3 linked regions of the Homo sapiens genome follow. The protein of the gene in region 3 purifies or fractionates together with the protein of the main gene of each other region. This does not show direct contact. Each region holds a gene or a part of one and is shown on either strand. Other genes may lie near its edges. The genes, in order: EIF5B, ZFTRAF1 and DEGS1.

The links.
Region 1: the proteins of DEGS1 (region 3) and EIF5B purify together in Homo sapiens (affinity purification with mass spectrometry; 2 studies listed by BioGRID and IntAct, with this or other methods). This does not show direct contact.
Region 2: the proteins of DEGS1 (region 3) and ZFTRAF1 purify together in Homo sapiens (affinity purification with mass spectrometry; 2 studies listed by BioGRID and IntAct, with this or other methods). This does not show direct contact.

Annotation. Positions count from the first base shown.
Region 1 is NC_000002.12:99,358,559-99,370,634, forward strand, and holds part of EIF5B (eukaryotic translation initiation factor 5B), read left to right. Parts: intron 1-1,677; coding exon 1,678-1,803; intron 1,804-1,906; coding exon 1,907-1,991; intron 1,992-2,589; coding exon 2,590-3,262; intron 3,263-5,086; coding exon 5,087-5,304; intron 5,305-5,712; coding exon 5,713-5,863; intron 5,864-9,934; coding exon 9,935-10,033; intron 10,034-10,833; coding exon 10,834-10,923; intron 10,924-12,076. UniProt on the Homo sapiens protein: Plays a role in translation initiation.
Region 2 is NC_000008.11:144,447,081-144,455,946, reverse strand, and holds the end of ZFTRAF1 (zinc finger TRAF-type-containing protein 1), read left to right. Parts: intron 1-2,486; coding exon 2,487-2,725; intron 2,726-3,376; coding exon 3,377-3,588; coding exon of another isoform or gene 3,589-3,767; exon of another isoform or gene 3,768-4,822; intron 4,823-5,176; coding exon 5,177-5,568; 3' UTR 5,569-6,365; downstream 6,366-8,866. Other genes in the region: TMEM276-ZFTRAF1 (uncharacterized protein LOC157542 isoform 1 precursor), read left to right, coding at 2,487-2,725, 3,377-3,588, 5,177-5,568.
Region 3 is NC_000001.11:224,184,456-224,196,531, forward strand, and holds the end of DEGS1 (sphingolipid delta(4)-desaturase DES1), read left to right. Parts: intron 1-5,121; coding exon 5,122-5,864; intron 5,865-6,636; coding exon of another isoform or gene 6,637-6,678; exon of another isoform or gene 6,679-6,701; intron 6,702-7,876; coding exon 7,877-8,023; 3' UTR 8,024-8,986; downstream 8,987-12,076. UniProt on the Homo sapiens protein: Has sphingolipid-delta-4-desaturase activity. Converts D-erythro-sphinganine to D-erythro-sphingosine (E-sphing-4-enine). Catalyzes the equilibrium isomerization of retinols.

The sequences.
Region 1 (12,076 bases), on a different chromosome or scaffold from region 3:
ATTGTTGCTAAAAATATACTGCCTGGCTTCCCCCTCAGTTTCTGGTTCCCTCTATCTTGGGTGGGGTCAATAAATACATAATGCTCAAACATTTCTTGGGTGGTTCAGATGCCTTTTGTGAGCCCTCTTGAGGCATAACACACCTTGTTGCCTTTAGGCTTTTGTACTTACTGTGTCTGGTATGTGTACCCCTTTTACTAAGAATAAGGTGCCTCTGACTTTCCCATTCTGGATTTGGTACTGTAGGAAGTCACCACCACTGCAGCAGATCAGTGTCAAATTATCTAAAATGTAGGAAGAAAAGGAGCACATTTCAATTCTGGCCAACTATTTATAAAAGCATTAAGTTCTTTTACTTCAAGGCATTTAACATTTTGCAATTTGGGGTTTACTGGTTTGCTGTCTTCCCTATTAAGCGCCTTAAGGCTAAATTCTATATCCTCAATGTCTTGTCATATAATCTTTTAATTATATTTATAATATGGTTGAAAGTTACTTCTCTTTAGAAATTTTCTTTACTGAGACCGGGAGCAGTGGCTCACGCCTGTAATCCCAGCACTTTGGGAGGCCGAGGGTGGCTGATCACAAGGTCAGGAGTTTGAGACCAGCCTGGCCAATATGGTGAAACCCCGTCTCTACTTAAAATACAAAAAAAAAAAAATGAACCGGGCATGGTGGCGGGCTCCTGTAGTCCCAGCTACTCGGGAGGCTGAGGCAGGAGAATCGCTTGAACCCAGGAGGTGGAGGTTGCAGTGAGCCGAGATCACGCCACTGCACTCCAGCCTAGGCGACAGAGTGAGAGTCCGTCTCAAAAAAAGGAAAAAAAAAAAGAAATTTTCTTTACTGAACTAAAGCATCTCTTACAAGGTGTCCATTATAAAGGCCACATTACATGAGTTGTTTTCTTACTGTGCCATTCATTTGGATTCATCTGCCTTTGCTACTTGGACATTTTAGACTGGACTGCCTTCATTTTCTGTAGGTTTTAGCTGGAACTTAATTTGGTTTACTCCAAGTAAGTTGGTAGGTGACGACATTGTTGGATGGATCCAGAAATGAAACCAGGAGCAAGCAGGTTTAGTTCTGGATTTTTGGTTAAGTATTTTATTTAGTGAATCATTCCTAATTCATTTAGATTTGAATGTGTGGTTATGTTTTTCTCAGGACATTCAATCCTTGTGCATTTTAGTTTTCCCATTGGTAAAATGAGATAATAGGCTAGGTGACTGATCTCTAAACTTCCTTCCAACTCTGAAATTTCTGCTATTCCAAGTAAAAATGCACAGGGATCCAAATATTTAGGTGTTGTTATTGATCGTCGAGAAATAAGACTTGTTTTATGTTTTAAGATCTCCCATTTTATAAATAACTTCATTCAGACGCACAAAAAACCTTTGGTATCTGTAAAAGTTAATTTCCTTTTCTTGATTACCCTGATTTTTTTCTGGAGCTTTTCATTATCTGTTCCTTATTTGAGTGTAATCCAGAAACTTCACTGAAGCAGATGTAGGGAGGCTGATAAGTAGATGTAACTTGTGTTGTAATGAAAGAACTTGCCAAATGATTTTTCTCATTGTGCTGCTAATGCATGAAAAAGGTTAAAATGATAAAATCTATATAAATGAATGATTATTTTGCTTTTAAGTAGCATTTAGGATGTTTTTGTTTTCATTTAAGCACCAAGGATGACATTGATCTTGATGCCTTGGCTGCAGAAATAGAAGGAGCTGGTGCTGCCAAAGAACAGGAGCCTCAAAAGTCAAAAGGGAAAAAGAAAAAAGAGAAAAAAAAGCAGGACTTTGAGTAAGTATATTTTAAATATATTTGATTTTTATTTGTTTTGGTACTGGATTCACTTAATAAAAACTATACCAGTGCTTCACAATGTATTTTAATCCTTTTCTAGTGAAGATGATATCCTGAAAGAACTGGAAGAATTGTCTTTGGAAGCTCAAGGCATCAAAGCTGACAGAGAAACTGTTGCAGTGAAGGTGAAAGACAGACCTTTGTTACCTATTCGTATTTCGTATTCTATTCTTTCTTCTTAATGTTGGTTTGGGGAGCTACATTTGGAAACTTTTGAGCAGTGTACAATATGTTATTTAAAAGCTTCTATGAAATCTGATGTCAAAGGGAAAAATAGGAATGTAAAGGTATTTTGTGGTATGTTGATTGTTCATAAAATTGGTACATTTGGAGTTGTGATGTAATCACTCGTTCCATCTTCAGTTTTCTCTGTTGTTTCTTTTTCATCCTTCGAATTTGGATAAGCCTCAGAGTAATGGGAAAATCATAGATATTTTTTCTTCTTTCAACTTGTCCCTTAGGCTTTGTAAAGTTAGTAAATGGGTGGTGACTAGTGCCTGTTTCAAGAGCCCCTGGATTCTGCAATTTACAATGATGCGAGATGTGTCTGAGGCCAAGGCCAACCTCTCTTGCTTGTTTGAATTTTATATTCCTGTGAAAAAGACTTTGAAAAAGATTTTGAAATCATTTTGAGATTTTTAAAAAATGTTTACTTAATGAAGCACATGACTCTGGTCTCAATTATAATTCTGTTAATTTTTTCTAACAATGGAAATTTTTTAGCCAACAGAAAACAATGAAGAGGAATTCACCTCAAAAGATAAAAAAAAGAAAGGACAGAAGGGCAAAAAACAGAGTTTTGATGATAATGATAGCGAAGAATTGGAAGATAAAGATTCAAAATCAAAAAAGACTGCAAAACCGAAAGTGGAAATGTACTCTGGGAGTGATGATGATGATGATTTTAACAAACTTCCTAAAAAAGCTAAAGGGAAAGCTCAAAAATCAAATAAGAAGTGGGATGGGTCAGAGGAGGATGAGGATAACAGTAAAAAAATTAAAGAGCGTTCAAGAATAAATTCTTCTGGTGAAAGTGGTGATGAATCAGATGAATTTTTGCAATCTAGAAAAGGACAGAAAAAAAATCAGAAAAACAAGCCAGGTCCTAACATAGAAAGTGGGAATGAAGATGATGACGCCTCCTTCAAAATTAAGACAGTGGCCCAAAAGAAGGCAGAAAAGAAGGAGCGCGAGAGAAAAAAGCGAGATGAAGAAAAAGCGAAACTGCGGAAGCTGAAAGAAAAAGAAGAGTTAGAAACAGGTAAAAAGGATCAGAGTAAACAAAAGGAATCTCAAAGGAAATTTGAAGAAGAAACTGTAAAATCCAAAGTGACTGTTGATACTGGAGTAATTCCTGCCTCTGAAGAGAAAGCAGAGACTCCCACAGCTGCAGAAGGTTGGTTAATACTTTAGAGGAAAGAGCAAAAGGCTTTTGATTCACAGTATAAGTTGTAATCATTGTGCCCCAAGGTCGTTTTGTTATTTGTCCATGGGTATAAAGACACTTGATTGTAAGGAGCCATCTAAAAAATTACGTCTAAGTATTTGACTTGATTTGCATTGTTAATTCTTTACATATATAGTATAAATATCTTTCAGATTATTTATGTACAGACTGGAATTTTTATAGAATTGCATTATGAAAACTATTTTTTTTGCTGTTGATAAAGGCTATAGAAGTTACTTAATGAAAAATTTATTCTTCCTTTCTGATAACTCAGTGTCAGATAATATTTGAATTCTTTCCTGTCTTTAAAAACCTAGTTCAATTTATGAAATTCACAAAGAAATGTTTTCATGAAGTTGCTAATATTTTCTGCTTCACTTAAAACTCAACATGCTAAAATTAGTGTCTTTTAAGCAATAATGAGCCATTTTTTTAACAACCAATTATAAAATAAAAGTTCTAGCTAATTTCTTCCTCTTATTTAGAATGAAAATAGCTAAAGATCAGATGGTTTGCATGGCCATACTATATTCTTAAAACAGTAGTTTTTGGGCTGGGCGCGGTGGTTCACGCCTATAATCCCAGCACTTTGGGAGGCTGAGGCAGATCACGAGGTCAGGAGATATAGACCATCCTGGCTAACATGGTGAAACCCCATCTCTACTAAAAATACAATAATTAGCCGGGCATGGTGGCGGGCGCCTGTAGTCCCAGCTACTCGGGAGGCTGAGGCAGGAGAATGGCGTGAACCCAGGAGGCGGAGCTTGCAGTGAGCGGAGATCGCACCACTGCACTCCAGCCTGGGCAACAGACTGAGACTCTGTCTCAAAAAACCAACAAAAGCAGTAGTTTTTCTTTTGACTGGAAAACTTTTAATGGGAAAATTGACACAACTTTTTTTTTTGAGACGGAATTTCACTCTTGTTGCCTAGGCTGGAGTGCAATGACACGATCTCAGCTCACTGCAACCTCCTCTTTACAGGTTCGAGTGATTCTCCTGTCTCAGCCTCCCAAGTAGCTGGGATTACAGGAGCCCGCCACCATGCCCGGCTAATTTTTGTATTTTTAGTAGAGATGGGGTTTCGTCATGTTCGCCAGGCTGGTCTCGAACTCCTGACCTCAGGTGATCCATGCACCTCAGCCTCCCAAAGTGTTGGGATTACAGGTGTGAGCCACCGTGCCCAGCAACTTTTTTAAATGCTAGCATATTTATTATCTGGATATATTCGAGGAGGAACACCATGAAAGTACCTTCATAGCTTTTAATTCTTTAGAGTTCTTGGAGTATAACTACCTATATTTTTGTATTTTATCCTACTAATACCCCCTAAAGTGGACATCATTCTCATTAACTCCATCTTGTAGAAGTGAAATTAGCTACAGAACTTACGTGGGTGTTAGTTCATTCTGATTGTTAGAACTTCATATAAGCATCTGTTGGACACCAGCCACTCAGGTACCATGGATTTAGAGATACATTAGGTACAGGATTGCCCTTTTGCTGCTGACAGTATCCTTCTGTCTTACTGTATTCCTCAGGACATCTGAGACCAACATCAGTATTGCAGACTTCTCAGGAGGCCATCTGTGAGTTATTCTGAGCTATTCTAGTTACCAAAGTGCTCAGGATGCCTTGATGCCTGTAGAACTTAGCCTGCTGCTGGCATCGGCCTTGGCCCATTATGGTCCTTGAATTGTGGTTGGGTTTTGCTCGTCATCACCACAGGGAATTGTTTTTTCATTTCAATGCTTTGCCTTTATTCTTTTTGGTAGATGACAATGAAGGAGACAAAAAGAAGAAAGATAAGAAGAAAAAGAAAGGAGAAAAGGAAGAAAAAGAGAAAGAGAAGAAAAAAGGACCTAGCAAAGCCACTGTTAAAGCTATGCAAGAAGCTCTGGCTAAGCTTAAAGAGGAAGAAGAAAGACAGAAGAGAGAAGAGGAAGAACGTATAAAACGGCTTGAAGAATTAGAAGCCAAGCGTAAAGAAGAGGTATGTTTTCATGAAGTTGGTAACATTGATATTGTGTTTAACTTAAAATCTATTCTCTGTAAAATATCTTTACTCTTCTAATTCTGAAAATTTCATAGTTGCATGGTAATTCAGTTATATTATTGTTCCGATACAAATAATAAGATGAAGAGGTACAGCACATCTTATCTTTATTTTCTCAAGAACAGATTGCTCGATACATAAGTTGCTTATGTATCATTGCCAATAATCTGATGTGATATTAATTAATAATCATGTATAACATTTAAAATACTTTGATTTGGAATCTCCTAACATAATACTTTGCATGTGTCTCAAGAGATTTATTTGAAGTTTGGATTGTTTACATTTGAATTTTATAGTTCATTAAATGAATACAGGTTTTGTCTGACATGTACTCTTTTATAGGAACGATTGGAACAAGAAAAAAGAGAAAGGAAAAAGCAAAAAGAAAAAGAAAGAAAAGAACGCTTGAAAAAAGAAGGGAAACTTTTAACTAAATCCCAGAGAGAAGCCAGAGCCAGAGCCGAAGCTACTCTTAAACTGCTACAAGCTCAGGGTGAGTGGTACTCTTCATTAACTGAATGGTCAGAGAGCTCTGCACATGCAGTTATATCCCTTAATGTTCAGAAGGAGAATGGAATTTGCATCAGGACAGTTCCTATGAAAAATCTGTGAAAAAGTTCAGTAAAACGTAAGGAATAGGTGATGTCATTTCATTGTTTAGGAAGATGACATCTACATGAGGATAAAAATTTATATGTAAATGATAGTATGTCTAAATAAGTTATCCTCCCACAAACAAGAATAGTGATAATAATAGAATGAGTCCCTGTGTACCTATCAGCCAGCTTCAACAATTAGGACCATTTGACATTCTTGTTTTGTACCTCTCCATCTACTTTTTATCCTAGCATGTTTTAAAGTGAATCCCAAAAAATAAAAAAGAAATACAGTGATTCCCAGACAGCATATTAGTTTGCCCACATGACCACGGTGAAAAAGTATTCATGACCATTTTTTTTTAACCCTTTCCTTACTTTCTGATGCAACAAGATATCCCAGGTTCATCTTGCATGGGCTGAGACCTGGAATCGGTTGTTTATCCAAAGAGCTTTTGTTCCTTTTAGAGGGTAATAGTGTTTAGAGATCACAACTGGGCATATAATTTATTACTTTTTTGAAAGGTAAGGTGATTTAAAATAGTGTCTTTGCTCCAATGAGAAGAATATATTGGGACCTCTCTTAAATTTCCTGCTCCTATATTCCCTAGATTTTTATATTACAGTCATTTTGGTGTTTATGCTATAATTACAGTAATAGCTACCATTTATTGTGTGCTTAGTGTGTAACTGATGCTACAATGTCTTTGACATTGTCTATTTTTCCCTCATAAAAAAATCTTATAGCTATTTTTACTTCCATCATATAGATGAAGAAATGGTGGTTCAGAGTGTAAACAGCTTACCCAAGGCCACAGAGCTGAAATTTAAGCTGGTCTGTGCAACTTTTTCTTACGCATATGTTCAGCTAGGAACATTAGATGTGAAGAAACCCAGTACTTAGATTTTAGAAAGTTTTATTCTTAATGGAGAATATAGCTTTTGTAAAATTTTAAATGAAATTAGGTACAAACTTGAATATAGTTAGCATTCATACATCAGATTTCATTGGTGACTATTGGAGAGGCTAAAAGCACCCATGAAGAAATTCAGATGGGACCAAGCAGGGAGTAATTTGCCAGTCTCAAAAATGCTGTTTTAAGGAGCAGTTAGACTTGTAGTTATGGAAATTACAGTGTAGAATGGTGGACTTTTAGCATCAGTCTTTAGCATTAGGCTTGTAAGAGATGCTCTCTCAAGTGGCATCCCTGACGCTGGTCTCTTACTCTTCATAGTGTTGTCCAGTGTTTACCATCTTATTAGTTCCCTATTGTCTACTAATAAGAATCCAAATTCCTTAGCTTGACATTCAAGGTTCCCCCCCACCCACAGCCCACTCATGTGAGTCATCTCATTAAAAGATCCTACAGTGTTGTTTCATCGTATGTTTGAAAGACAGCTGCTTACCACATTTATTACCTAGAATATTGTAAAACTTATTCATTGAGCTAAAAATGTACTCTCAGAGAGTGTAGGCATCTGCAGGTGTCTTCATATAATTGCTCTGAAATGTGCAGCAGGTTAACTTTTCAGTCATCCTTTAGCCTGTGACTACTAAGCATATACACACACACACATATATGAGTACTTTATCAATAATTTGTAATAAACTCATTTCAGGCAAAGAGCTTCTTCAAGAACTTGATTGTTATGTCTCAGTTTGCAAAGTGAATGGAATGTCTAAACACATACAAGTCTTGGTGTTGATTCCAAGTACAGCAGCTTATTTGAGAGTCTGAGACTAGAGCAGTAGTCAGTTGATTAAGTCTAGGGTGTTATTGGGACCACCCTTCAGGTAATCCAGCCTACAGTTTCCCCTCAGGCCCATGCTTTTCATCTTAGTAGGTGTAGGCTGCTAGGCAAGGAAAACTTAAAGTGATGATCTCTGCATTCTCAGCTGGCTTTATCCTCTTTCTTTGGTTTGTTTAATGTATTCGTCTTACCAGTCATAGCTATGGTTTTACCATTCTAGCCATTCTTCAGTACATGCACAACACACATCCATATACATTCCTACGTTAGAGATAACATTTTTAGTCATTTTCCTTTATTAGTGACTTCATTCAAAATCCCATGGTATACAATTTCTGTTGTCTTTATTCTAAGGCTTCTGCCCATAGTGAGAGACTGAGTCAGTAATCCAGTAATCTGTAGATTCAGTTCAATCCCAGTCAAAATCACAGCATGGTATTTTGTAGCTATCTGTCAACTAGTTCTAAAATGGATATGAAGAGACCAGAGAGTTAGAATGGCCAAAATATGTTTGAAAAAGGAGAACAAACTTAGAATACCTGATTTCAAGACTTAGTATAAAGCTATAGGAATTAATACAGTGTGATATTGCCAGAAAGATAGACAAACAGATAAATAGTCTATACATGGTTAGTATATAGGTGAAAGGTAATTCAGTGGATAAAATACAGTATTTGTAGCAAGTGGTACTAGAACAATTGGACATCTGTATGCAGAAAAACCCAAAACCAGTTTTAATTCCCACTGTATAAAAATTGACCCAAATGGGTATCATATGTAAATGTAAAATATACAATAATACTTTCAGAGGAAAACATAGGAGGATATCTTGTGTTAGGCAGAGTGCTTAGATAGGACTCTAAACCATAAAAGGAAAAAAGATACATTTTGAGAAAGACCAGTTCAGAACTTTTCTCTGCAAAAGACACTGTCAAGAGAATTCCAAGACAGTACCTCCAAGTCAGATATCTGAGAAAGAATTAACATCCAAAATATATAAAGACCTCTCAAAATTCAACTATAAGAAAACCAATAAGTTCATTTAAAAATGGGCAAAAGGTATCAACAGACACTTTCACCAGAAAGCTATACGCATCTGAAAAGAATGTTCTAAAAAAAGAGAAACCTTTACCACATTCAGAGCAGTTGAAACTCTTTTTTTTTTTTTCTCTCTTTTTTTGAGACAGAGTTTCGCTATTGTCCAGACTGGATTGCAGTGGCGCAATCTCAGCCCACTGCAACCTCTGCCTCCCAGGTTCAAGTGATTCTCCTGCCTCAGCCTCCTGAGTAGCTGGGATTATAGGCACCCACCACCACAATATATATATATTTTATATAATACAATTTTTTGTATTTTTAGTAGAGATGGGGTTTCACCATGTTGGCCAGGATGGTCCTGGACTCCTGACCTCAGGTGATCCACCCACCTCGGCTTCCCAAAGTGCTGGGATTACAGGCGTGAGCCATTGCGCCTGGCCAAAACTCTTCTGCATTAGTGGTGGGAATGCAAGATAGTATAGCCACTTTGGAAAACAACTGGCAGTGTCTTTATAAAAATTAAGGTCATATTTACCTTATGTTTCATCATTCACACTACAAAATATTTGCCCAAGAGAAATGTTCACACAGAAACCTGTCTGAAAATGTTCATACCTGCTTTATTCATAATTGCAAAAAACCAGAAACAACTCAAATGTCCTTCAGCTGTTGAATGGATAAGCAAACTGATATATCCATACAATGGAATGCTGCCCAACAATGAAAGTAAACGAAGTATTGACATGTGCAGCAGAGTGAGTGACTCTCAAATCCATTATGATGATAGAGGCCAGACCGTAAGATTCCATTTATGTGACATTTTAGAAAAAGCAAATCTTTTGGTTGGAGAACAGATCAGTGGTTACCAGAGGCTAAGAAGGTAAGGAGGGTTTGATTACATGGAGCAGCACAGGATGATGGAGTGATGGAGCTTTTCTGCATCTTCATTGTGATGGTGATACACGTATCAAAACTCTCACTGTATGTGAAACGAGGATTTTTACTGTATGTAAATTTTAAAATACCTTATATGTAAAAGATACAAGTTTTTCCATGAATATCCTTTCATATTTTAGGGTATGTGTCTCTGTGGTGAATGAAATGCTATCCTTTAAATAGTACTTCTCAGGTGACATGCAAGTAGTATAAGCCTGAAGTTTTTCATTTTTATCCCTCAGGTGTTGAAGTGCCATCAAAAGACTCTTTGCCAAAGAAGAGGCCAATTTATGAAGATAAAAAGAGGAAAAAAATACCACAGCAGCTAGAAAGTAAAGAAGGTTTGTATACAAAATAGCCTCTAATTTAGGAAATATGTTGTTTGCCTTTCCCCCACAATCTTCAAAACAGTGTCTGTAAAGAAGAAAGGAAAAAATCCGAAATGCATATTGAAACTTATTTTCTAAACTTATTTCTTATTAATGCCATTATTCTCACTTGATTCAAATGACAAGCTAATGGAAAAAGTATTTTACTTTGAAAAATCTGGGTTCTACCCTATGAATATTGTAACTGTTGTTAACTCTGAGAAGTAAAACTACCATTCTTATCTTTTCTTGGTTTCCTTCTTAGCCTTCTGTGATTTTTGTATTTTATTTATTGAGCAGAAAGAGTAGTTTCCTGTAAAACATATGACTATATTTAAACATTTTCTAAACTTGAAGAAATAGGTTTGCACAGGCTGGGTACAGTGGCTCACGCCTGTAATCCCAGCACGCTGGGAGGCTGAGGCGGGCGGATCACCTGAGGTCAGGAGTCCAAGACCAGCCTGGCCAACATGATGAAACCCTGCCTCTACTGAAAATAAGAAAATTAGCCTGTCATAGTGGCAGGTGCCTGTAATCCCAGCTACTTGGCAGGCTGAGGCAGGGAGAATTGCTTGAACCCGGGAGGTGGAGGTTGCAGTGAGCTGAGATTGTACCACTGCACTCCAGCCTGGGTGACAGAGCGAGACTCCATTTCAAAAAAATAAAAAATAAATAGGTTTACACTACTGTTTTTTATTCAGTACTTAATGGAGTATCTTAACAGAAATTATACACCAAAAAAAATATTATCTTGGTTTCTGCCCCTTTTTCAGTGTCTGAATCAATGGAATTATGTGCTGCTGTAGAAGTTATGGAACAAGGAGTACCAGAAAAGGAAGAGACACCACCTCCTGTTGAACCAGGCGGGTAGTGTTATCTGATTATTTAATTAGTGAATTCTTATTAAATAGTGTTGGTGTGTCATAAGTTGTCTTAGTTATTATAAATAATTGGGGAGAACCAAATAAGTATCTGGCTGGATGGCCCTCTTTCTTCATAGTTCTTTCTTTTCTATTTCTTTTCATTTCTACTTTGAATAAGTATCCAAGTGAGACTTGAATCAGTTGTGTTCTTTTCAGCAGTGTTAGAAAATGTTTTGTAGAAAGGATACACTTTGGGAGGGTGAGGCAGATGGATCACGAGATCAGAAGATCAAGACCATCCTGGCTAACACGGTGAAACTCCATCTCTACTAAAAATACAAAAAATTAGCCGGGGGTGGTGGCGGGTGCCTGTAATCCCAGCTACTTGGGAGGCTGAGGCAGGAGAATTGCTTGAACCTGGGAGGCAGAGGTTGCAGGGAGATTTCAGTGAGCCTAGGTTGCACCATTGCACTCCAGCCTGGGCAACAGAGCAACAGTCCATCTCAAAAAAAAAGGAAGAAAGGATAGTAGGTTTTGGATTTTCTCTGATGCTTTTATTTATGAGTCAGAAATCTCAAAAAAAGATCTGAAGGTCTTCATTTAATGCTTCAGAAGCAAATTGGAAGGATTTTTAACTAGAACTTTTTAAGAACCATAAAAATTGGCATTTTTAGACCTTCCTAAAGGTCGGCTTCTATTTACAATAATCAGAGAATTCAACTTACTCATTGTGGGGTATCTGTGTATATGTTGAGGAGTTGGGGAAAAATCTCTGGTTTTAAAAAAAAAACATTGTTCTAACTCTTACGACTAGATATTGATGGGAGAGCTGGGGCTGCCTAAATGTATGTTTGGTATTCAAGAGAATCCCCAGCGATTAAAGATAGGATCAGGAATGGGAAAAGCCTTTACAGAATACTAAGCCTGATTTACATTGGTGAATTATATTATTGATAGTTCCTTTCCTTCTTTTTCTCTTTTCTCTTCTGAGCGAATAGGATCATCTCACCTGGGTAGACCTCAGCCTAGCACTGATATGACGAGATTAGAGAAATTTAGATTGATATGCTTAATAGCAGTCCACTATTTTAGATCGTATTTTTAGCACCAGAAAGAATTGCTAATTTAGATGGATGTTTTGGGTACCTGAGTC
Region 2 (8,866 bases), on a different chromosome or scaffold from region 3:
AAAGGAATGAGGCCTGTGGCCAGGGGCCGGCCCAGGAGCTGGGGTGGCTTTCGGGGGAGAGGCCCGCAGTGCTGGGAGGTAAGTGGTGATGTGCTTGGCAGCCTCAGTGCTCCCTTAGGAGGGTCTAGGACCCCACCTCGAATCTTCCTGGGCTATGCAGAGCCAGGAAGAGAGGCCAGGTGGCCTTGGTGGGTGGCATTAGATGCTCCAGCCCTGCCTGGAACTCCCTTGGGGGTCGGGCCACAGCCAAGAAGAGTGCTGTTTTGCCTGTGCTAAGGCCACTGTACGTGCAGAGCTGGACCCAGAACCTCGTCCAAGGCCCCCGGCAGTCTCACCAGGAGGTGTTTAGAGCTGGCCACGTGGAGTGGCATACCTCCGGGGGGCGGGGGGCTGTGAGAGGACAGTGGTGTGGGCCCTTGGTCTGTGCCTCCCACAGGACAGCTGCTTCAATAGCATCTGTGCCCCCTCCTGCCTGTAGTCCACCCACCACTGACCCCTGGACTTGGCTGGCGGATTTTCACACCTTCTCCTGGGGGCAGGTCTCAGCTTGTCCCCAACCCAGTCAGAGCCAGTCTCACTCCCTGCCTCAGGCAACTGTGTATGTTTTAATTTTTATTTATTTATGTATTCATGAGATAGAGTCTCACTCTGTCTCCCAGGCTGGAGTGTAGTGGCACCATTTCGGCTCACTGCAACCTCCGCCTCCCGGGTTCGAGCCATTCTCCTGCCTCAGCCTCCTGAGAAGCTGAGATTACAGGCGCTCGCCACCATGCATGGCTAATTTTTGTATTTTTAGTAGAGATGGGGTTTCACCATGTTGGCCAGGCTGGTCATGAACTCCTAACCTCAGGTGACCTGCCTGCCTCGGCCTTCCAAAGTGCTGGGATTACAGGCATGAGCCACCGCCTGTAATTTTAATTTTTAACCAAACTGAGAACTTGAGGATTGAATGCAGGTAACGGGTGGTGTTCATGTGGATGTGGATTCCATGAAAGAGGGCTTTGTCCTCACTGTCGGTTCTCCACATGTAGGTCCTTTGACTCAGCAGGCCTTAGGCCTAGTCCACAGGTGCTGAGTGAACAGCCCCAGCGTCTGACAGCTCCTTAGCTTGGGGTGCACAGGCAGCTGAAGCAGTAGGATGGCAGCTCAGACTTCCCAGGGCCCCACGTGTGCAGGGCTGGCCTCCCAGCACCACCAGGCAGGGCCGGCCTCCCAGCGCCACCAGGCAGGGCCCTGTGAGTGTCCCCTCCCTGACACACACCTTGTAGAGAGGCTGGGCCTGGGCAGGCTGCTCTGCTGCACCACATCCCATTCTCAAGAGGGTCCCAGGTCCCAAAGGAAGCCTGTAGCCCAGTGGCTTTCTGGAGGTTTGCATGGCTGGCAAGCCTGGGCCGGCTGCTGGAGAGGCATCAGGACAGGAGCAACTCTGCTGACTGCTCCCCTCAGCGAGCTCTAAGAGTCTTTGGGTGGGAGGCACATCACATCCCTGTCACTCCTGGCTGGCCCTGGAATGCCTCAGCCCACACACCCCACTCCAGCCAGGGCTGTGGGAACTGTGTCTGCTCAGGTACAAAAGGCTTTGTTTGTTCTTGGACCTCTTGGTTCTGGTCTGGGCTTCCCACCTCCCATGCTGTGAGCCCCCACGGGCTGGGACCGCAGCTTGCCATGTGTCTCTCAGTGGCACCAAGTGGACGCTCGAGGCTTATGTTGAGGGAGTGAGAGCCAGGATAGGCCACTGGGCGTGCTGGGAGCCCACACAGGCAGGGAGCCCAGCGGGAGGTGCCCTGCTCCTGCCAGCCCCGGTTACCCCAGCAGGCTCGGCACCCACTCAGAGCCCCCATTTCTGCTCCCCAGGCACTCCCTGTGTGCCTACCTGCCCTTGTCCTTGTCCTGGGCCAGCTTGGCTCCTGCCTCCCAGCTCTGAGGAGGTCTCTGCAGGTAGCCAACCTCCCTGGACGAGGGGGCAGCTGCCTCCTCTCACCTGGGCTCACCCTGAGCCAAGTCCTCTCAACCCAGGATAAATGGCCTTTCTGAAGGCCCAGAGAGCATGCCTGCCCCAGTGTGGGAGCTGCATCCGCTCCCCACCTGACAGTGATGGCCAAGAGCCCAGTGTTCCTGGAGGGCTCCCAAACTCTGGACCTGTAGGGGGGTCAGGGCAGTCGCTGGTCCCTAAGGGAAAAGCGTGACCCTCGGCCCCAGGTGGCTGAACCCGTCACTGCCAGGGCGAGCTGTCACCTCTGTGAGCTGATGAGGCCTTGCTTTTAGGACCTCTAATCTCTGCAAGAACCCAAGCTGGCTCTGCCTGTTTCTCCTGAGCAGCTCGCAGTGTTCACCACACTCCAGCACGACTCGGGACAGGCACGTGCGCCCCTCTGCACCAGCTGGAGTCCCTCAGGACACCTGGCTGGAGCTGATGGGCATGGGCGGGTGTGTGCGAGCATGAGCCCGCAGGTCTGTGAGCTTCGTCTCCCTTTCCTTCTTCGCAGTGTACTAATGGTCACTTGATGTGCGCTGGCTGTTTTATCCACCTACTAGCAGATGCCCGGCTGAAGGAGGAGCAGGCCACGTGCCCCAATTGTCGTTGTGAGATCAGTAAGAGCCTCTGCTGCCGGAACCTGGCCGTGGAGAAAGCCGTGAGCGAGCTGCCTTCAGAGTGTGGCTTCTGCCTGCGCCAGTTTCCCCGCTCCCTCCTGGAGAGGCACCAGAAAGAGGAATGCCAGGACAGGTAACTGAGGGTCAGGGGCTTAGCCTTACAGGCGGGGCCCAGGACTGCTGGGAGCCCACCCTGGTGCAGCAGGGCCCTGTGCAGGGTGGTCTGGCTGTCTCTGCTGTCTGGGCCTTGGGGACCACCTGTGTAGCCCAGTGACGGCCCTGTGGGAGGGTGCCTGCACAGGATGGGGACAGGTGGGTTTTGCACCCAGTTGTTATCCGGACATGAGCCTAGCCTTCCAGTGCTCTTTGTGGCTGTGGGGGAGCCCCTTGAAGGGCCCAGGACAGCGTGTCCAACGCAGGACCTCAGGGAGCTTGGTGTGAGGGTACACTGCCCATGGCTACCCATCCAGTGGAGGCAGCCACCAAGTCTCCTGCAGTGAGGCTGTGCAGGACCACCACTGCCAAACAGAGGAGAGAACCACGCCATGGTGCGGGGCACACAGGCTCAAGCTTGCACTCTTCCTTCCCCTCTCTCTCCCTTTTTCTGCCTGTCTCCTTTCTCTCCACATGCTGCCACTCTGACCTCATCCTGGGGGGTGGGCTCACAGTTACGTGTGTCCTGCAGGAAGGGGTTCTTAGCTGGATGGAAGCCATATGGGAGGACAGCTTGTTGCAGCCTCCTGTTCGGGGCTCAGTCTGTGAGTGATGTACCTGCCTCCCCCAGGGTAACCCAGTGCAAGTACAAACGCATCGGCTGCCCATGGCACGGCCCCTTCCATGAGCTGACGGTGCACGAGGCTGCGTGCGCCCACCCGACCAAGACAGGCAGTGAGCTGATGGAGATCCTGGATGGGATGGACCAGAGCCACCGCAAGGAGATGCAGCTGTACAACAGCATCTTCAGCCTGCTCAGCTTCGAGAAGATTGGCTACACAGGTGAGGCGCCCCGCCGCCTGCTGCATGCCACACAGGTGTGGGTTGGGGGGCTGGCAGCCAGGAGTCTGGGGGCAGCAGGCTCTGGGCACTGGGCACTGACAGCGCCGGACAGCCGGGCTCTGGACAAGCTCCCGGTGGACAGGTGGACACCTCGGTCGAGAAGACAGGCCGGAGACTGAGTGGAAGGAGGGGCCGAGGCAGACCCCAGGTGCACACCTGTGTGGCTCTCACAGCAGCCCCGCCCACCTGTCCTCGCCACCCTGGCTTCACCATCCCTGCAAGGTGGCATCTCACTGTGGGGCTCCAGAGCCTCAAGACAGTCAGGGTCTAACCAGAAAGTGGGCAGGTCTCAGGGGGCCTGGGAGCTAGGGGCCTGCCCCTCGGACCCTGGGGCAAGAAGAGCACCCTGCCGAGTGAGGTCCTACCTGCAGGCAGTCACTGCCCCGGCCATGGGCCTCTCAAGGCTGGCACGAAGCCATTCAGGGAGAGGGCTCCACAACAAGCTGAGGGTGCCCGACTCAAACTGTAGAACCGGGAGTGGACACCCACAGACGCCCAGGCTGGATGCGTGCGCAGGCACACTGGATCTCGTGGCTCTCTGGGCCGCTGCCACCGCCTTTGAACGTGTCGGGGAGCAGGAGCCAGGCCAGAGCCTGGCCCAGAGGACAGCGAGAAGCACCTGTTGATGCTGGGGCCACTGGAGGAAGCTCCATCCCTCTACTCTCAGCCCACACCAGGCGGCCAGCTCAGAGCACCAGGCGTGGCGCAAGCAGGGTGGTCGTGGGCAGCCAGTCCCGCCCTGCTGCCTGGACTGTGCCCAGCGGGATGTGGGCCCGAGCAGGCCAGAGAGGCCGAGGGCCTGGGGTCTCTGCGGCAGCCACAGCCCGTGGTGAGTAGCAGCCTTAGCTGTCCTGGAGATACCGGGGCCTCGTGGAGTCTAGGCAGGCTGGGGCACTGTGGCTGTGGCCGTGGCCAGGTGAGAAGCCCCATTCGCGCAGGAAAGACTGGCCACCTGGGAACCCACGCCTCCACGGAGGGACTTGCCGGCCACAGGCTGTGGGCTGCCCAAGAGGACTGTGCAGGCAGGGCTGCCTGCTGATTGGCAGCTCCGGATCAGGCCCGGTGCCTGCAGACCTGGTGCTCCCCTCGGGCAGGGCTGGGTGCCGCAGCCGCCTGCTGGCTTTTCTGGCAGCTCCTCTGTATCAGAACCAATAAAGTGCACTTGTTCTCGGAACCGCATCCTGTCTGTGTGTCTGCTTACCCCGCCCTGGGGGACACCCGGGGCTCGGGGCGGTGAGGGAGGCCAGCGTGGGTCGGGCACGCCTGGGGTGTGGCCTGACACGTGCAGCCTCTGGACTCTCCAGCTAATCCATGTTGATTCTGTTTGTGGTTGTTCCCCTCAAAGCTTGTGTGCACCTCCATTTGCCATAGTTGCGTTTGGCTTGCTTGTGACAAGCAGAGCCCGGTGTCCGGGTAAGTTGCCTTCCTCCCCGGCTGAGCCTGCCCTCGGCCTGGTCAGGGAAGGCGTTGCTGCCCAGCCCTGCCCACACTAACAGCCGGCTCTTTCCGGCCCTGTCTGTCTCCACAGAGGTCCAGTTCCGGCCGTACCGCACAGACGACTTCATCACGCGCCTGTACTATGAGACGCCCAGGTTCACAGTGCTGAACCAGACGTGGGTCCTGAAGGCTCGAGTCAACGACTCGGAGCGTAACCCCAACCTGTCCTGCAAGCGTACGCTCTCCTTCCAGCTCCTCCTCAAGAGCAAGGTCACGGCACCGCTGGAGTGCTCCTTCCTGCTGCTCAAGGGCCCCTACGACGACGTGAGGATCAGCCCCGTCATCTACCACTTTGTCTTCACCAACGAGAGCAACGAGACGGACTACGTGCCACTGCCCATCATTGACTCCGTGGAGTGCAACAAGCTGCTGGCTGCCAAGAACATCAACCTGCGGCTCTTCCTGTTCCAGATACAGAAGTAGGGCGGGGCCTCAGGATGTCCGAGGAGCCCACGGGCGGCATCCCAGCACCGCTGCCCTGTCCACCTGGCTGGCAGCTGCTTCACAGGACTATCTGATCACTTTAGCAAAGGAGGAGAACAAACGAAGCCAACACAGGGCAAGTCTGCATGCGTGCGCGACGGGGCCCCCGCCTCCGGCTCACCCCCCCGACCCCTGCCTCCCCTCCTTCCGAGGGCCGCCAGAGGCTGGGCTGACCCGAAGAGGAGACGGTGCACCAGGCGCCCCGAGGCTCAGAGACGGTGGCAGCAAGGAGGCCGAGAGGCACAGCGACCCTGCCCCAGCCCTTCTGTGCAGTCAGGCGGCGGTGCTGCTCCATCCCTGCGGGTTCCGGCGGGGCGCGGGGGCCTTGCTGACATCAGACGGGATATCCGAATATCTGATAGCAATTAAAAGGCAGCCTTGTTTCGTACTTTCTGTTTTGTTCGAGGGGAAGGCATGGCTGTGAATGGACAGCGTGGGGGCTTTGGTTTGGCCTGGGGGTCAGAGCCTGCCCCGCCCCCATCTGTGTGCCCGCACACGTCCCCCGAGGAAAGACTCAGAGACACTGCCTCCCCCTACACTCTGTCATGGGGTCTTGAGACTGAGGCTTGGGCAGGAAGATCCAGGTAGGGTCGGGGCTGCCCTGGCCAACCGGCCGCTCCCAGGGAGACAGGACTCAGCCACCAGGGCTCAGCAGGCATTTTCCGAAAGCAGGGTGAAATTGTCTCTTCCCAGGAAAAAGATTAAACTCCTTGCAGGCTCTTGGATAAGTTACACAATTTTAGTGAGAAAGAGTCTATTTACTGTAGATTCAGCCTTGAGGGCCCAGCGTCCCCAGGCTGTGTGGAAAGCTTGGGTCAGTGCTTGGGCGCCTGGCTGGGTGAGAGTCTGAGGTGTGTCCCCCATGCTGCTCTCGGGGTCCTGCTGCTGGCCCTGCATTCAGGGCTCGCTGCAGAGGTCAGAGGTTGGGCAGCCCAGCTTCTCACCTGGAGGAGGTGGGCCCTTCCCATCCTCACCCTGGCCGCCCCCTGATGTGCCCCGTGGTGGCTGAGCAGGGCTGGCCTAACAGGATGGGAAGGAACCCTGCCTGGAGGGGTAATCCCTGGTCCTTTCTTCCCCTGGGACTCCCAGGGCTACTGGGAAGGATACAGCTTGACGCCCCCACCTTTGCTTAGGAGATGTGGCTCTTCCGTGATAGCTTTTTGTTGCTTCAATACCAAAGAACTGGTTTCCTCTGCTCCAGTCAGGTGCATTAACTTGCCTCACAGCAGCCCAACCCGCCCCCACTGGCTGCTGGGGCCTGGCCCACATTGTCCTGTGCTTTGCTGGTCACGGGTCGAGGGCTGAGAAATGGAGAGGAACTGGGGGCAGAATGTAAGCGCCATCATCCGGGCGGCTGACCATGGCACAGCCCAGCATGACCCTCCCAGTCAGCTCTTCCCTCCCGGGCCGCCGCACTGCCCCTCACGGGCTGAAACTTTCTGGAGCTGTTTCTGAGAATGCTGTGGGTTTCTACTCCCAGGCCAGGGCGTGTGGCCTGCTGGGAGTGCCTCGCTGCCGGAGCCTTATCTCCTGCAGAGCTGATGTGGCCTGGCCACCAAGGGCATGGGAAGGCCCCATGTTTGGTTTTCTGCTGACCACAAAGAAAGACCCCACCCAGCCCCCAGCACATCCTTGGGAGCAGCTGCCTCTGACTCTGGCACCACCAGGGTGAACTTGGGCACCTCAGGGCTGCGCTTTGGGGCTGTCCTCCCTCATGCTCCACCCACAGGCGCAGAGGGTTGGGCTATGGCTCTACATCTCTTTGGAAGCCCGACGCCCTCTAGCGTAGTGTTTCTGGGTCCAAGGTGATGGTGTGGGGCGCACGGGTGGGGCGGGCTTGCCCTGTCACCTGTTTGGTTGTGTGTGTGAGAGACTGACTCAACGGAGGGACAGGCCCCAGCATGTCTCTGGGGTGGGGAAGGTGGGAGGCTTGTTCTTCATGGGGACAGCCAGGCTGGGACGCCAGGGGCCTGGAGGCAGACGTCTCTGCAGGTTGGGGGGCCACGTGGAGAAAGGAGACCCGGGGCTGGTTGAGCTCCTGCAGCCCCACCTCCGCAGTCCCGGGGCAACCAGCCCTGTGGGAGTTCAGGATGGGAGGGGCTGGCCTGAGGGCAAGGGCAGTGTCCACACAAGGCCCTTCCAGATGTGGGATGTGGGTGCCTCAAGTCTGCAAGTGCGGCCCAGCGTACTCAGCAGGCATCTGCCCTGTGACCATGACATGCAGCAGCTGAGCCTTATGGCCTGGGGGAGCCAGGCACCTGGGAGGACCACGGTGGGTCCTCGGCCACCGGGAACTGGAGCACGGGCTTCCCGTGGCGTTGCCAACGTGGGCCACACATGACAGGACCGCCAAACACACGGCTTGTGTCCAAGACCCTGAGACATCTTGACGTCCCGACCTGCTCCTTTGTCTTCTCTGAGGATGGGGGCGTGGGGGTCCACACTCCGCAGATGTGGGGGGCATAGCCTAAGCCAGGCCCCACCCTTCTCCCTCCCTTGTCTCATCCCCACCCCCTGGTGAGCACCACATCCCTCATTTATAAAAATAGGCCAGGCACGGTGGGTCACGCCTATAATCCCAGCACTTTGGGAGGCCGAGGCGGGCGGATCACCTGAGGTTAGGAGTTTGAGACCAGCCTGACCAACATGGTGAAACCCCATCTCTACTAAAAATACAAAAATTAGCTGGGCGTGGTGGCGCGCGCCTGTAATCCCAGCTACTCAGGAGGCTGAGGCAGGAGAATCGCTTGAACCCAGGAGGCAGAGGTTTCAGTGAGCTGAGATTGTGCCACTGCACTGCAGCCTGGGTGACAAAGCGAGATTCCGTCTCAAAAAAATAATAATTTTTTAAAGAGCAGAGCAAGAAGTGTTTTTACCATTGTTGGAAATGACTTATGTGTCACTTTTGTGGTCTGCGTTCTCTTTGGATATTTTCTGTATGTAACAACTGTAGTTTAAAAAAATATTCCAACCCATGTTTTGTCTGTGTTTCCTTACCAGAAGACAGACACACAGCTGGGCCTTCTGGGCTCTGCTGGCCTCCCCTGCTGCCCTCAGCCTGTGGCAATCTGCACCAGGCCTGCAGCCCTGCACAGCACTGCCTGACGTGTGTACCTTGTCTGGTTACTGGGGAAACAGGCACAGAGAAATTGGGTTGTCAGCCGGGCATGGTGGCTCACGCCTGTGATCCCAGCACTTTGGGAGGCTGAGGCGGGTGGATGACCTGAGGTTGGGAGTT
Region 3 (12,076 bases):
GTGTTTGTTTTTTGTTTGTTTGTTTTTTGAGACTGCACGTGTTTGTTTTTTGTTTGTTTGTTTGTTTGTTTTTTGAGACTGAGTCTCACTCTGTTGCTCATGCTGGAGTGCAGTGGCGCGATCTCCACTCGCTGCAACCTCTGCCTCCTGGGTTCAAGCGATTCTTCTGTCTCAGCCTCCCGAGTAGCTGGGATTACAGGTTCCCACCACTACGCCTGGCTAATGTTTGTATCTTTTTTAGTTAGAGACGGGGTTTCACCATGTTGGCCAGGCTTATCTCGAACTCCTGACCTCAGGTGATCCGCCCGCCTTGGCCTCCCGAAGTTTTGGGATTACAGGCGTGAACCACCGTGCCCGGCCAGAGCACGAGCTTTTTAACCTCTGTTGAGGAAACGGGGACCGGTCACGGTAGCTCAGGCCTGTAATCCTAGCACTTCGGGAGGCTGAGGCGGGAGGATCGCTTCAGCCCAGAAGTTTGAGACCATCCTGAGTAACATAGTGAGAGCCCCCCGTTTACACACACACACACACACACACACACACACACACACTTTTTTTAAATTGAGGAAACGGTGAGTTGAACATGAGCAATTATTCCTTATATATAGTATTTCCTTAGTTTTTCTTCTCAACATTCATTTGCCCAGTGAAAAGAAAAAGCAAGTAGCTGGGACCACAAGCGCACACCACCATGCCTGGTTGATTTTTCTATTTTTTGTAGAGATGGGTTTCTCCGTGTTGCCCAGGCTGGTCTTGAACTCCTGGGCTCAAGCAATCTGTCCGCTTTGGCCTCCCAAAGTGCTGGGATTTTAAAGGCGTAAGCCACTGCACCCGGTAACTTTGGGTTCTTGAATTCCCTTCCTCCTCTTCTTCCTCCTCCCCTACACTCCATTAGAGAAAGGGTCTTGCTTTGTTGCCCAAGCTGGAGTGCGGTGGTTGTTCACAGGCATGATGATCACTGCAGCCTGGGCTCCAGTGGTCCGCATACCTCAGCCTGCCAGTAGCAATTTGTTTGGCACATCACTTACACATACTTGATATGAGATAGCATGATACTTTTTTGAGACGGAGCCGCACTCTGTCACCCAGGCTGGAGTGCAGTGGCCCAGTCTCGGCTCACTGCAACCTCTCCCTCCTGGGTTCAAGCAGTTCTGCCTGCCCCAGTCTCCCGAGTACCTGGGATTACAGACGCCCGCCACCATACCTGGCTAAGTTTTTCTATTTTTATTTTTAGTAGAGACAGGGTTTTGCCACATTGGCCAGGCTGGTCTCAGATGATGCGCCTGCCATGGCCTCCCAAAGTCCTGGGATTACAGGCGTGAGCCACCCTGCCAGGCCACATATGATATATTTTATCAATGCCTTATCTACATGTTACATAGGAATAATCTAGCGTCCTACCTGTGTAAAAACCAACTCTGGAATACTGAAACTGAGCTACTTAATATTCTGAAAATCAGGACGGGTGTGGTGGCTTTTTTTTGCCTGTAATCCGAGCACTTTGAGAAGCTGAGGCAAGAAGATCGCTTGAGGCCAGTTCAGAACAGCCCCATCTGCACGAGAAATTAAAAAATTAGCTAGGCGTGCATGCCTGTCCCGCTACTCAGAAGGCTGAGGCGAGAGGAACACTTGAACTCAGGAGTTCGAGGCCAACCTGGGCAACATGGCAAAACCCCATCTCTACCAAAAAAAAAAAAATTTAATTAGCGGGACATGGTGGCATGTGCCTGTGGTCCCAGCTACACAGAAGGCTGAGGTGGGAGGATTGCTTGAGCTGGGGAGGTAGAGGCTGCAGTGAGCCGTGATTGCCCCACCGCGTTCCAGCCTGGGCAACAGAGTGAGACTGTCTCAAGAAAAAGAGATGAAGGAAGTGAGAAGGTGCTGATTGATACTTACCTCACACTGAGCCTTTTTTCCCCCCACAGACTTATCACTGAACCATTTCACTGGGAAAGTAAAAGGACCACATATTTCTTGGCCGGGCATGGTGGCTCACGCCTGTAATCCCAGCACTTTAGGAGGCTAAGGTGGGCGGATCATGAGGTCAGGAGATCGAGACCATCCTGGCTAACACGGTGAAACCCCATCTCTACTAAAAATACAAAAAATTAGCCGGGCGTGGCGGCAGCCACCTGTAGTCCCAACTACTCAGGAGGCCGAGGCAGGAGAATGGCGTGAACCCGGGAGGCAGAGCTTGCAGTGAGCTGAGATGGTGCCACTGCACTCCAGCCTGGGCGACAGAGTGAGCCTCCGTCTCAAAAAAAAAAAAAAAAAAAAAAGAAGGACTACATATTTCTCAATGAAAATACAGTGTACAATGTTTTCCATGCAGGTGTAAATACTAACTCATGTTCTGTTTCAGGGTGGGAGATGGAATAACCTGTAGAAAGAATCTTTAGATTTGTTTAAATTATACACAAATGATAAGAGATCTTTCTGAAAGTATTGACTTTTTGGCGGGGGAGGGAAGGGGCCTGATAGAACAACCAACAATTGTACACTTTAAGTTTACATTTAGAGTTCACATTAAAAGTTCATTTACAAGGCATCTGTTTGAAATTCGTGAGGATGAGCTGGGCTGGGTGGCTCATGGCTGTAATCCCAGCCCTTGGGTGGCTGAGGTGGACAGGTCACCTGAGGTCAGGAGTTCAAGACCAGTCTGGCCAACATGGTGAAACCCCGTCTCTACTAAAAATACAAAAATTAGCTGGGTGTGGTGGTGGGCGCCTGTAATCCCAGCTACTGGGAAGGCTGAGGCAGGAGAATTGCTTGAACCCAGGAGGCAGAGGGTGCAGTGAGCTGAGATCTCACCATTGCACTCCAGCCTGGGCAACAGAGCGAGACTCCGTCTCAAAAAAAAAAAAGAATAAATCACAAGAAATGGTTCCTTCACTGTTATACTTTAACATGATACAGCTTTTTAATGTTTTATTTTTTGAGAGAGAGTCTCACTGTGTTGCCCAGGCTGGAGTGCAGTGGTGTGATCATAAATTCTTGGGCTCAAGTGATGCTCCCGCTTCAGCATCCTAAGTAGCTGGGACTACAGGCTTGTGCCACCTCACCTGGCTAATTTTTTTTATTTTTGGTAGAAATAGAATCTGTTTGCCCAGGCTGGTCTTGAACACTGGGCCTCAGGCAGTCTTTGTGCCTCAGCCTCCCAAAGTGCTGGATTAATGGTGTGAGCCACAGCACCTGGCCAATAGCTTTATTGAGATTATAATTCAACTATCATGATTTATTCATTTAAAGTGTACAGTTCAGTATTTTTTAGTATATTCACAGAGTTGTGCAGCTGTCACCACCATATAACCTTAGAACATTTCATCATCACCAAAAGAAACCCTATACTCATTAGCAGTCCCTCATATCCCCTGCTTCTACCTAGGTAACCACTAATCTACTTTGTGGCCTATAGATTTGCTTATTCTGGACATTTCATATACATGAAATCATAAAATACCTGATCTTTTATGATTGGCTTTTACTTAGCATAATATAAATTTTTTTTTTTTTTTAATTTGTAGAGACAGGGTCCTGTTATGTTGCCCAGGCTGATCTTGAATTCCTGGGCTCAAGTGATCCTCCTGCCTTGGCCTCTCAGAGTGCTGGCATTATAGGTGTGAGCCACTGCACCCAGCCATTAGCATAATATTTTAGCTGGGCACAGTGGCATGCTCCTGTAGTCCCAGCTACTAGGGTGACTGAGGCAGGAGGATCACTTGAGTCCAGGAGTTTGAGGCTGTAGTGAGCTATGATGGCATCACTGTACTTCAGCCTGAGTGACAGAGGTAGACCCTGTCTCTAAATATTTTAAGGTTCATTAAAATAATATATTTTCAATAAAATAATATTTCAATAAAATAATATTTTAAGGTTCATTCATGTTATAGCATATGTCAGTGTATGATTCCTTTTTCTGGCTGAATAATATTCCTTTGTATGGATATACCAGGTGTTTAACATTTTGAGGAACTGCTGTACAGTTTTCCAAAGCAGCTGCACCATTTTATATTCCCACTAGCAAAGTATGAGGGTTCTAATTTCTCCACATCCTTGTTTTTACCTACCTTTTTTTATTATAGTCATCCTAGTGAGTGTGAGGTGGTATCTATGGTTTCAGTTTGCACTTTCCTAATGACTAACGGTGTTGAGCCTCTTTCATGTGTTTCTTGACTGTTTCCGTATCTTTTGGAGAAAAGTGGGTTCAGATCCTTTGCCCATTTTTTAATTGGATTATTAGTTGTAAGAGTTCTTCATATATTCTGGATATAGGTCCCTTATGAGATACATGATTTGCAAACATAACCCCGCTTCTGTGGATTGTCTTTTTACTTTCTTGACAGTATCATGTGCAACAGAAAGTTTTTGATGCTGTCCGATTTCTCTGTTTTCTTTTGTCACTTGTACTTGTTATAGTATCTAAGAAACCACAAAGGCCATGAAGATTTATTTCTATGTTTTCTTATCAGAGTTTTATAATTTTCTTATAAATTTGGGTCTGTGATCTGTTTTGAGTTCATTTTTGTGTATGGTGTAAGGTAGGGGTCTGAATCCATTCTTTTGCCTGTTGATAACAAGTCGGTCTAGCACCATTTGTTGAAAGGACTGTTCTTTCCCTGATTATATTGGTAGCCTGTAGTATTGGTTTTTATATACTATTACAATTTTGGGAAAATTCAGTACAGAATTACTTGGAGCATGTTGATTTGTCTGAGAAAACTGTGAATACCAGTTTCATGATTTTAGGGTAACTACAAAATGTATATTATATTCTATCCTTTGTCAGATGTGTTAATTTAATCGTTTTATATAAGGTAAGAATGCTGTACCTCTGTCTAAACACAGAAATAACATGTATTTTAATATAAAGAATGTGGAACTTCTAAACTTTGAGGCTAATTTTTCCTGCATAAATTCTCAAATTATTGTGACATGATATTTCATAACTTTACTAGTAGAATCCTTCCCTGTGTTATTAAATATCCACTAAAGTCTCTAGTAAAGGGAATATGATTTACAGAACAAATTTAATGTGTTAGTTTAATTGGTGTTAATTTAATTATAATTGGTGAACTATTACATACTTTTCTTAGTTCCTGTTTTTTTGTTTTTTCTTTACAGCAAAGTATCCAGAGATAAAGTCCTTGATGAAACCTGATCCCAATTTGATATGGATTATAATTATGATGGTTCTCACCCAGTTGGGTGCATTTTACATAGTAAAAGACTTGGACTGGAAATGGGTCATATTTGGGGCCTATGCGTTTGGCAGTTGCATTAACCACTCAATGACTCTGGCTATTCATGAGATTGCCCACAATGCTGCCTTTGGCAACTGCAAAGCAATGTGGAATCGCTGGTTTGGAATGTTTGCTAATCTTCCTATTGGGATTCCATATTCAATTTCCTTTAAGAGGTATCACATGGATCATCATCGGTACCTTGGAGCTGATGGCGTCGATGTAGATATTCCTACCGATTTTGAGGGCTGGTTCTTCTGTACCGCTTTCAGAAAGTTTATATGGGTTATTCTTCAGCCTCTCTTTTATGCCTTTCGACCTCTGTTCATCAACCCCAAACCAATTACGTATCTGGAAGTTATCAATACCGTGGCACAGGTCACTTTTGACATTTTAATTTATTACTTTTTGGGAATTAAATCCTTAGTCTACATGTTGGCAGCATCTTTACTTGGCCTGGGTTTGCACCCAATTTCTGGACATTTTATAGCTGAGCATTACATGTTCTTAAAGGGTCATGAAACTTACTCATATTATGGGCCTCTGAATTTACTTACCTTCAATGTGGGTTATCATAATGAACATCATGATTTCCCCAACATTCCTGGAAAAAGTCTTCCACTGGTAAGTAAAGGATTTGATACATATTCTAATTTTGTTTTTTCATTTGTTTGTTTTTTGAGACGGTGTCTCACTCAGTCGCCCAGGCTGGCGGGCAGTGGCACGATCTCGGCTCACTGTAACCTCCACCTCCCGGGTTCAAACGATTCTCATGCCTCAGTCTCCCAAGTAGTTGGGATTACAGGCGCATGCTACCACGCCCAGCTAATTTTTGTATTTTTAGTAGAGATGGGGTTTTGCCATGTTGGCCAGGCTAGTATTTTGTCAGTCCAAGCAGTTCATTAAAAAAAAAAAAAACAAAAAGAGCAAGAATATAAATACTGCATCTTCCAGCCTACTTTTACAAAGGGTTCACTCTTGGGTCCTTAAGCTTAGTGGTTACACTTAGGATTTATTTTTAATTTTATTTTTTAACTTTATGTTTTTTTAGAGACAGGGTCTTGCCCTGTCACCTAGTCTAGAGTGCAGTGGTACGATAGCTCACTGCAGCCTCAACTCCTGGGTCAAGCGATCCTCCCACCTCAGCCTCCTGAGTAGGCAGGATTATAGGCACGTGCCACCATGCCTGGCTAATTTTTTATTTTTTGTAGAGGCAGGGTCTTGCTGTGTTGCTCAGGCTGGTCTCAAACTCCTGGATTCAAGTGATCCTCCTGCCTCAGCCTCCCAAGTAGCTAGGACTACAGCCACATGCTATGACAGGCTGATTTTTTAAATAATTTCTTTTAATCCTCCAAATGGTTTGTTAAAATTTTTAACATTTTTAACATTTTTATAGAGCTGGAGTTTCCTGGATGGGTGCAGTGGCTCACACCTGTAATCCCAGCACTTTGGGAGGCCTAGGTGAGTGGATCATCTGAGGTCAGGAGTTCGAGACCAGCCTGGCCAACATAGTGAAAGCCTGTCTCTACTAAAAATACAAAAAACTTAGCTGGGCATGGTGGCGGGTACCTATAGTCCCAGCTACTCGGGAGGCTGAGGCGGGAGAATCGTTTGAACTCGGGCAGTGGAGGTTGCAGTGAGCCGAGATTGTGCCACTGCACTCCAGCCTGGGTGACAGAGCGAAACTCCGTCTCAAAAAAAAAAAAAGAGAGAGATGGGTTTCCCTGTGTTGCCCAGGCTGGTCTCAAATTCCTGGGCTCAAGTGATTCTCTTGCCTTCCAGAATGATGCTGGGATTATACATACGAACCACTGTGCCCATCCAGATAGTTTTTTAACTTGAGATGAAAAGACATTTTTAACTTGAGATGGCAGAATTGCACATTTGATAAGTGCTTTTTTTTTTTTTTTTTTTTTTTTGAGATGGAGTCTCTCTCTCACCCAGGCTGGAGTGCAGTGGCACAATCTCGGCTCACTGCAACCTCCGCCTCCCGAGTTCAAGCAATTCTCCTATCTCAGCCTCCTGAGTTGCTGGGACTACAGGCGCACGCCACCATGTCTGGCTAATTTTTTTGTATTTTTAGTAGAGATGGGGTTTCACCATATTGGTTAGGCTGGTCTCGAACTCCTGACCTCAGGTGATCCACCCGCCTCGGCTTCCCAAAGTCCTGGGATTACAGGTATGAGCCACCGCACCCAGCCAAGTGCTTAATTTCTATCTAATTAGCATGCCACAATTTATTAGTATTTGTAAGTTCCTGGATGGCAGGGATCAGATGTTGCCTTTATATTCTATGGCGTCATCCATGCAGTACATTCTTTAATAATATCAAGTTAATCTAATTGTATGTATTTGTTGTTAATTTTACAAATAAGCCAGATATTTAGTCCCTTGGAATGTGATGGGAGAGAGACCTAGAGGGTCGAGTGTATTCAACTGCTGCTGAAATGTAGACTGCTTTTTGTTTAGAATTCCCACAGCTGCTGCTGCTGCTGCTTTTTTTTTTTTTTAAGAGAGAGGAGGGAGGCAGGTCTCATGGTTTCCCTTCTCAGTGTTTGTGTCAACCATTCATCAGTCATCTTTGAAAGAACCTAGTAACACTCATTTTTCATCTTGCTGTATTTTTTCCCTTCTAGGTGAGGAAAATAGCAGCTGAATACTATGACAACCTCCCTCACTACAATTCCTGGATAAAAGTACTGTATGATTTTGTGATGGATGATACAATAAGTCCCTACTCAAGAATGAAGAGGCACCAAAAAGGAGAGATGGTGCTGGAGTAAATATCATTAGTGCCAAAGGGATTCTTCTCCAAAACTTTAGATGATAAAATGGAATTTTTGCATTATTAAACTTGAGACCAGTGATGCTCAGAAGCTCCCCTGGCACAATTTCAGAGTAAGAGCTCGGTGATACCAAGAAGTGAATCTGGCTTTTAAACAGTCAGCCTGACTCTGTACTGCTCAGTTTCACTCACAGGAAACTTGTGACTTGTGTATTATCGTCATTGAGGATGTTTCACTCATGTCTGTCATTTTATAAGCATATCATTTAAAAAGCTTCTAAAAAGCTATTTCGCCAGGCACGGTGGCTCATGCCTATAATCCCAGCACTTTGGGAGGCCAAGGTGGGTGGATCACCTGAGGTCAGGAGTTCGAGACCAGCCTGGCCAACACGGTGAAACCCCATCTCTACTAAAAATGCAAAAATTAGCCGGGCGTGGCGGCACATGCCTGTAATCCCAGCTACATGGGAGGCTGAGGTGGGAGAATTGCTTGAACCCAGGAGGCGGAGGCAGAGGCTGCAGTGACCCAAGATTGTGCCACTGCACTCCACCCTGGGCAACAGAGCAAGACCCCATCTCAAAAATAAATAAATATATATAAAAAATAAAAAGCTATTTCTAGTTTATTTCACTATAAAGTTTTGCTTTATTAAAAAGCTAATAAACAGCTATTAATCACAGTGTATTAGTATTTGTTACATTTTTGTATTTCACTATCTTTATACTATATAATATGGTAACTTGGGTACCGGGGGAACTTTAAAATTTCATCTCAAAAATAATTTTTAAAAAGCCTGAGGTATGATATAGCATAAAAGATTGAGATGAAAATATATTTCCCTGTAAGCTGAATTACTCATTTAAAAATTTTAACTTCTATATGGGACCCGAATTAGACACTGCTGAATCCTGTACAGCCTTACTCATAAATAAAGTACTTACTGAATTTCCACCATTCAAATTCATTTTTCAGGTGTGTTGACTCTCACATTAGAAACTGCTCAACTGATAAAGACTTTCATGTTATTTCACTGCAGTGGGAACTGGCTGTGGTCTGATGGTAGATCGTTGGTCTCAAGTAGCTGGTAGCATGGGCTGTTGTTATGTCAGCAGTCTTGCTTACCTCAAATATGTCACTTGGATACGTTTAGTGTAATATGGTGAATTATTTTAAAAATACATCAGCAGCTGGGTGTGGTGGTTCACACCTGTAATTCCATGCTTCGGAAAGCTGAGGCAGGAGGATCGCTTGAGACCAGGAGTTTGAGACCAGCCTGGGCAACATAGTGAGACCCCATCTTTTTTTATTTTTTATTTTTTGAAATGGAGTCTTGCTCTGTTGTCCAGGCTGGAGTGCAGTGGCGCAATCTTGCCTCACCACAACCTCTGCCTCCTGGGTTCAAGCGACTTTCCTGCCTCAGCTTCCTGAGTAACTGGGATCACAGGCGTGCACAGCCATGCCCAGCTAATTTTTTTTTTTTTTTTTTTTTTTTTGTATTTTTAGTAGAGACAGGTTTTCACTATGTTGGCCAGGCTGGTCTCAAACTCCTGATCTCAGGTGATCTGCCTGCCTTGGCCTCCCAAAGTTCTGGGATTACAGGCATGAGCCGCTGTGTCTGGCCCCCATCTTTTCAAAAAATAAGAGTGGTGTGGTGGTGTGCACCTGTAGTCCCAGCTACTTGGGAGGCTGAGATTGAGACTACAATGAGCCATGATCGCACTACTACGCTCCAGCTTGGGTGACAAACACCCTCTAAAAAAAAAAAAAAGTTGGCTACATTGCAGTTTCGTAAAGAATAAAACAACACCCAGAATGCTGAGGGCGGGGTGAGGAGTAGAATCCTCTGTGGGACTGCCAGGCCTGTCTCACAGACCTCATTTCATCCCCAAAATACTTTGCTTTCCCTTCCTGACCCCCTTGCCTAGGAAAATTCCTAGTATCTTCTAATCTGTTACTCAAAGAACAATCAAAGAGTGACAATAGAACCAAGTTTACAATTCAGATTTTACTCAGTCACTAAAGTATCTGCAAAACATACCCCTGGATTTGATGCTAGATCATAGAGATCATGTACTCCCATCAAGTCTATAGAACTCTGGCCAATGGCACCGGGCGTGGTGGCTGTAATACCAGTACTTTGGGAGGCTGAGGCAGGTGGATCACGAGGTTAGGAGTTCAAGACTAGCCTGACCAATATGGTGAAACCCTGTCTCTACTAAAAAAAATACAAAATTATCTGGGCATGGTGGCATGTGCCTGTAGTCCTGGCTACTCGGGAAGCTGAGGCAGGAGAATCGCTTGAACCCAGGAGGCAAAGGTTGCGTGAGCCGAGATCACGCCCTGCACTCCAGTCTGGGCGACAGAGCAAGACAACGTCTCCAAAAAAAAAAAAAAGGCCAGGCGCGGTGCCTCACGCCTGTAATCCCAGCACTTTGGGAGGCCGAGGTGGGCGGATCACGAGGTCAGGAGATCAAGACCATCCTGGCCAATACGGTGAAACCCCATCTCTAGTAAAAAATACAAAAAATTAGCCAGGCGTAGTGGCCGGCGCCTGTAGTCCCAGCTACTTGGGAGGCTGAGGCAGGAGAATGGCGGGAACCCAGGAGGCGGAGCTTGCAGTCAGCCGAGATCGAGCCACTGCACTCCAGCCGGGGCGACAAAGTGAGACTACGTCTCAAAAAAAAAAAACAACAACCAAAAGAACTTTAGCCAATGGCTGCAGCTGCCATGTAAATGCTGAAAACCTCCAAATCTATCACTTCAGACCTCTCACTACCTGCTGGATGCACAGAGTGGGTTGTCATCCCTCTCCAAAACTCCAGTCTCCACTTACATAACCACTTCTTTCCTGAATGGAAGTTTCAGTCTTCGTAGCAGGCATCCCGATTATTCTGGCTCCCATCTGCCAACTCGATCCATTCTTTAAGAGAGCTACCAATCTGGGCAGTAAGAAGGCTGGGCCCCATAACCTCTAAAGAATAACTCCAAACAAAATTATCCGGGCCTGGTGTTGTGTGCATCTGTGGTCCTAAGCTACTCAGGAGGCTGAGGTAGGAGTTTCGCTTCTTTTTTTCTTTTTTTTTTGAGATGGAGTCCTGCTCTGTCGCCCAGGCTGGAGTGCAGTGGCTCGATCTGGCTCACTGCAAGCTCCGCCTCCCGCGTTCACGCCATTCTCCTGCCTCAGCCTCCCGAGTAGCTGGGACTACAGGCGACCACCACCACGCCCGGCTAATTTGTATTTTTAGTAGAGACGGGGTTTCACCGTGTTAGCCAGGATGGTCTCAATCTCCTGACCTCGTGATCCGCCCGCCTTGGCCTCCCAAAGTGCTGGGATTACAGGCCTGAGCCACCGCCCACGGCTGGAGTTTCGCTTCTTGAACCCAGGAGGCGGAGGTTGCAGTGAACTGAAATTGCACGCCATTACACTCCAGCCTCGGTGACAGAGCGAGATCCCGTCTCAGACAGTCCTAAGAAATCACTCAGTAGCTTTGCATGAGTTCTCCCTTCTGTTGTAAACTCCTTTCTCCGTTTCTCTTCTGGTTCAAAGTTTCACACCTTCAAGGCTCACAGCAGCCTTCTGTTACCCACCCCCAGTCCCCAGCAGGTCAGGTGTCAATTTTTTTGACTTTGAGAACCAATGATTATCTCTTCATGGCCCTAATCATACCATTGTGTAAATAGGCACTGTTTCTCCATAAGTTGTAACTCCTTAAGAGCAGGACACATCTTTTATTTCTGTTTCCCAAACCTAGCAGGGTGTTTGACTTAAAGTAAGTGCTTGATAAATGGAGAGAGACCAGCAGGGAGAGTCCTTGAACTTGAGAAGCTTTTTCTAAAACAAAAACACAGCCAAAGACAGGGCACTTGTATAATCTTTAGGTAAAAGTATTTTATGCTACAAATAATGGACATTCAATGAGAATCCTTACTTTTCACTGAGTCCTGTACCAAGTGTTTTACATGAACTATTGTACTTTTTTGTTGTTGTTCCTTTTTTTTTTTTTTTTTTTTTGAGACAGAGTCTTGCTCTGTGGCCCAGGCTGGAGTGCA